2 separate regions of the Homo sapiens genome follow, and region 1 is linked to region 2. Evidence: fine-mapped expression QTL. A gene starts in region 2. The other region holds a variant in brackets. All regions are shown on one strand. Distances are between the middles of the regions.

Region 1 (2,912 bases), 35 kb before region 2:
GGCTGGTCACAATTTGTGGGAACATTTACAGGAGAAGAGTTAGTGGAATGAACTACAGCCCACACCACCACAGTTTGTCTCAATCTGTCACTGATACTCATCATCTTCCTCCTCCACCACCCACTCTAGGTTCTCTTGCCTCTCAGCGAGCACTCCTGCTGCTCTCTGTGGCTCTCAGGAGGGGTGTTCCAGACCTTTATCTCAGAGGAGTCTGAAGCTCAAGTTATGCTTTACTCAGACCATGGTTGCTATATTTACCCATTTTTACATGCAAAATTTCACATAGAAAAAAGCAAACCCAGGATCACCTGAGTGCCAAACATATTCCTCCCTGCCCCCATCATCCCACTGTATAGCAGCAGCTCTGTGTCTTCCTGATGATCAGATCAATTACCCCTGCTGGAGCTGTAACCCCTTCCTTTGCCTGCTGATCTACCAGCATGAGGAGGCCAAAGTGGCCAGGCTGCAGCCATAGCTGTAAGATTATTGGGACTCCTATGGCGTCCTCCAATAGAAGCATTTCCCGCTCCTGCCCCCAGGAACCAGGAGCTCTAGACCCACAGAGTCTAAAGTTTCTGTGAAGAGAAGCATAAATTCCCCAGGTGGGTCACTTAGAATAGTGATGAGCAGAGCCACTCCTACTTCTACCGCTTGGACCCTGGACCATCCATTCTACCTAGTGGGGACAAATGCACATGCAATGGCCATTGGCTTCAGATGTGTATTGCATCCTGAAGATAGCACACTATCCCCAAACTAGCTCCTCCATGCATCTTCAGGAGGCCATCTCGCCACTCTATTGGGCAATAGTTGGTGGTTGATGTGATATGCACCACACTGCCTCCCTTACTCTAAGTTGCTGTTATGCACAGTCATATGTAGATTAGACATTGTGTAAGTCGTTGGATTGTCGTGCTTGCTGAGGTGCAGGAAGCCGGAAAGGTAATCCACATACAGAATGTGTGTCCATTTCAGTAAGTATGAATTGTCCTTTTCAGGACAGAAGGGGTCCTGTATAATCAGCTTGCCATCAGCGGTCAGTTGAGCTCCTGGGTGCCTTATTGCAGACTCGGTGTCAGTCTTTGCAGCTGGCAGGTTCGACAATCAGCAGTGTCAGTAGCTAGGTCAGTCTTGGAATGGGGATCCTATGCTATTGGACCCCTGTACTGCCTCCATCTCTGCTCCATTTGGGAGCACAAACATTAAGATGGCTGAGGACAGGGCTGATTGACAACCACTGGACGATCCATCCCACTCATCTGGTTGTTCAGTCCTTCTGCGAGTGGTCAGCACTGTCATTAGCATAAA[G/C]ATGCTCACCCTTTGTGCCTACTCCCGAAAGGGCTCAGCTGCACTGCAGACTGGGCAGAATAGGCCAAGTGACAGGCCAGCCCTGGTACTGGTGACTAACAGCCTGCTGGACCTCCCTGCCCTAGTCCTGAGCTTGAGCTCTGCCGGCTGGCTCTGGGCCTGGCCCTGGAGGGGTCCACAGGTTGCAAGAAGTACCTTGTGCAATCCACACTGGAAGCCTGTCCTCACCCAGATCAGGGTGGAGCTGAGGGGGCCCTCAGGGTTTCAGGGCCTGGGTGTAACAGCAGCCAGTCAGATCAGGGTAGATACACACAGATACACACACACACACACACACACACACACACATATTATCCCTGGGGCTCAGCCCAGCTCACTCTGGAGGCTGAAGGCACTCCTGTCAGCCCTGTATCTGGCTTCATTGGAAGTTTCCCAAATGCAAAGACTTTTTGTTGTTGTTGTTGAACTCAGGCCCCTTACTTTCTCCACATTCATGCCTAAAACACAAGATGCGAAAAAAAAAAGCCAAGTGCTCAAAGGCATACGGTAGTATGGTGGCTAATTCTTTGGGTGTTGGAATTAAAAAAAAAAAAAAAGCCCTGAGTTTGAGTTCAAGGTATGGCTTTGTCACTTTTGACTTTAATGTTCTTGGATAAATAACAATTCTCTGAGCCTCAGTCTCTACATCTATAAAACATGAATAATATTACCTCCCTCACAGAATTGTGAGGATAAAGGAAAACACATATGTAAAATGTTTGACACAAAACAAGTATTCAACAGAGGCTATATAACAATATTATTAAAAACAAGAGTTTGTGATAAAATAGGGAACACAGAGAGAAAACCCAAAATAAATGCAGAAGACAGAAAGAAATGGGAAACACCGAAGACCCTGTGGCAAGCATGAAAATCAGACCTCCTTCAAAAGAACCTGCTGCAGGCTTATAGTGACCACCAGTCCCTGGCCACCCTCTGGAGCTATCACTGCGTTCACACCAAGGCCACGCTTTCTTGAGTTACTCCTAGCCAAAGACAGAACGTGGTGGGGCACTAGTGTCTGCCCATTCCTGTGGGATATGGGACCCCTCTAATGGGCAACTATGGCTCCAGGACTCCCATCAGCCGGGCTGGAATTTTCTTAGAACTGAGTCTGAGGCCCTTCCTTCCATCGCCCCTTCCTTCCCTGTCTCCTTTCATAGGTGTCCAAATGGTATTACAATCTGAAGGCTCTCCTGCCCCTTTCCTTCCTCATTCACAGGTGTTTACTTTAACAAGTCTCTGGCACAAATAATCCCATCTTGGCCACTTTAGAGCACCTGAACTAACACAGGCCCCTTCCCTAATGCTGGGCTTTCTTAGAGGGAGGGTCCTGAGAGGATCTGTCCCAAATCTGTGTTGTGCACCACCTGGGTGAGGGCAGCCGCAGTTCCAGGTTGACATGAAATTCTTAGATCATGGAGCTTGAATGGGAAACAGGAAGTGAGTGTCCTTGGGACATGCTATGATGCCTGATGGTTCATGTTCCTCTCTGTACCTGAAGTCGCCCCTCAGATTAAGCAATCCCTGCCTCTTCCTGCCCCCACTCCCTAGGCTGGCTCCTC
Region 2 (2,912 bases):
CACATATATACACTTCCACTCACACTTGCACTCACACACTCCTACATGTGTATACACACTCGCAGTCACATTTGCACTCACACACTCGCTCACACTTGCACGCATGTATATACACACTCGTGTTCCCACACACTCGCACTCACATGTTTACACCACATATACACGCACTCACACACACGTATACACATGTACTCACACTTGCACTCACACATACTTGCACAGATGCCTACACGTATACTCACACATGTATACACACATGCACTCTCACTTGTACTCACCCATGTATACTCTTACACACACACACTCTCTGTTAGCCAGCCTGAGCTGAGCTCTGAGGAAGCCGCAGGGAAAGGACAGAGAGAAGGATGGAGATGGGGTCACTCACGCAGGTCTGTGCCCCGGATGTTTGTGGCCCTCAGCACCTTCACCTGGAGGTCATAGTATGGGTAGGTTTCCCGCTGCAATAACAGAACTCCAGGGACTCAGTCAGCTAGTGTGAGCCTGGTCCCTCGCCCCATTGTTCCCCTCGTCCCATCATGGAGCAGCAACCTGGCATAGGGTCACTGACGTCTCTGTGCCGGGGAGCAGGGAGACCTTGGCGGGTCCCAGGCATTGGGAGTTCAGCACCTTCGTGATGTGTCTGGACCCTGGAACCCATCCGGTCTGGGTTCAAATCTAAATCCAGCACGGACTCACTGAACTAACGATGGCTGTCACGCACCACACACCTGCAGCTCCCCTCAGACGCTCGCGCCCCCACTCTAGCTTGGGAGCAGCTGTGAGAGCTGTGCTAATGTTGTGCTTGAGAAGATTAAATATTAAAAGAGAAAACTGTGACACCCCCTCCCTTGCTTGCTCCCTGACAGAGGCTCAAAGACCGTCTAGGAGGCAGCGAGCAGGTGAGCGGAAGCCGAGAGTCACCGGCCGGCCGGTACCGGTCTGACGAGTCACCGAGCAGATTGCAGCTGGGCTTAGGAGAGATAACATCAGCATGCTGCCTACTGGGAGGGAAACTCTCCCCTCACAACCCCACCAGCTCCGTGGACTCTACAGCCAGGCTCGCGCATCCTTGGTGAAAGCCAACCCACCCCAGACAAGTGTCAAGTGAACTAACCCTCCATTTCCTAATCGGAGGGAGCTATTTTTAAGAGCCAAGGTCTAATTTAAGCTCTGCCAGGTCATCTAGAATAAACAGGTCCCACCCCAACTCAAAACCCAGGGCTGGGGCTGGTCTCAGTCTTCACAGGGCACTGCAGCTCCCAGGACTCCCCCAGTCCGGGTTTCCCAGGTAATCTCAGGTACGTTACCCGCCAGTGCCTCCACAGAGGGCCCCTCTTCTCTCTCTTCTGAAGCAGCACTGCCCCCAGGAGGGGCAGCATCTTGTCTGCCAGCCACCTTGGCCAGAGTGCCCAAAGCATGGCTGGGCAGCCCGGGCCCCAGCAGGGAACCCTGCCTGCGCTCCTCTGGTTGCACAAACTGCTGGCTCAGGTGTGACAGGCAGCACTGAGTTGGGAGGGTGGAGCTGCCTGCTCTGCAGAGAACTCAGGCTGGATGGCCTGCTGGAGGTGGAGTTTGACATGCTCCAGGAAGTGACTGGAGCTTAATTTCCCCAGGCAGGAGGCAGCTCAGTCCCTCTCCAAGAGACTCTTGGGGTCTCTGGTTAGCACTCTTGTTCCCAAACCCAGCGCCCTGGTTATCACTGGGCTGTTTGTGAAAAATAGACACCGGAGCTATTTCCAACAAGACCTCTAGGTGAAGCTGGCACAGCTGGCCCAGAGACCAGCTGGCAAGTGCAAATCAGGGAAGAGTCTCCTCCAGCTGTGGAAAAGGCCTGAAACTAGCCACCCTTCAAGTCCCACCTTCCCTGCGGCTCTTAAGCTGAAGCCTAGAAATCTCTGCTTCAGTGTTTCATCTGGGATCAAAGATGTTTCTCTCTTTATATATATTTTCTAATTATACTTTAAGTTCTACGGTACATGTGCACAACGTGCAGGTTTGTTACATGTGTATACATGTGCCATATTGGTGTGCTGCACCCATTAACTCGTCATTTACATTAGGTATTTCTCCTAATGCTATCCCTCCCCCATGCCCCCTGCCCCCCGACATGCCCCGGTGTGTGATGTTCCCCGCCCTGTGTCTAAGTGTTCTCATTGTTCAATTCCCACCTATGAGTGAGAACATGTGGTGTTTGGTTTTCTGTCCTTGCGATAGTTTGCTCAGAATGATGGTTTCCAGCTTCATCCATGTCCCTACAAAGGACATGAACTCATCAAAGATGTTTTTAATCTCTCCTGACCACCCTCATTAATTCGCCAAACACCAAGAGCCTGGTGGGTGCCAGACCTGTGCTAGGCCCAGAAACGCAAAGGTGACAGAGGTGAGGCGGGCCCATCCACATCCTGGAGAAATTCAGTCTCATGACTCCCTGTGGCTTTGGCCCAGGCTCGCTTCCTGGGTCAGTGTACAGTGTCCAGGTACAGACAGGCATATGGGCAGGGGGTTATAAATAAGGACAGGCCAAACAACAAGTCTACGTATCCTTCAGCGACCAGATATACAGGCTTTAGCATTCTCTTTGGCCATCGTAGGCCTTAGGCTGCAGATGGATGTGATGTTCGCTCTTCTGTGGACCACAACCATCAAGGTGGCTGAGACAGGCACAGTCTCCAGGAAGAGTGAGGATCTCGGGGGCCGTGAACTGTGGGAGGGAGAGAATTTCTGTCCCTCAACTAAGATTCAGTCATCTCCACTCTTCCCAAGGCCTAGAGTCACAGGCTGAAAAATACAACATCCAAAAAAGATGTGATTCAACTCCAAAATGAACCGAATGGGCAAGTTCAGACCAGAAACTCCCCCCAAAAAAGGAATGTGTGACTGCCAGTGACCAGGCCCCAAAGAAGGGCCTGTTT

Which allele goes with the higher level. Positions count from the first base shown, and alleles are read on the strand shown. Sizes are in standard deviations (SD) of each study's normalised expression.
For the expression in esophagus mucosa of the gene that starts at base 1,505 in region 2, allele G in region 1 goes with a lower level than allele C (small effect, 0.23 SD a copy in GTEx).

What was found. PIP is the estimated chance that this variant, and not a neighbour inherited with it, causes the effect.
Region 1: its variant is the best candidate, but not a certain one, in a credible set for the expression of PLA2G4F in esophagus mucosa (GTEx, PIP 0.53).

What each region holds. Positions count from the first base shown.
Region 1 is chr15:42,120,378-42,123,289 of GRCh38, forward strand. No RefSeq gene overlaps it. Among named protein-coding and RNA genes, the nearest start is that of PLA2G4D, 27 kb to the left of the region's middle. The variant G/C (reference allele first, on the strand shown) is at 1,309.
Region 2 is chr15:42,155,132-42,158,043 of GRCh38, forward strand. PLA2G4F (phospholipase A2 group IVF) reads right to left here and starts at 1,505. Exons shown (of 20, transcript NM_213600.4): 1 at 1,308-1,505; 2 at 386-458. The coding sequence starts at 1,418. RefSeq lists an enhancer at 1,230-1,945.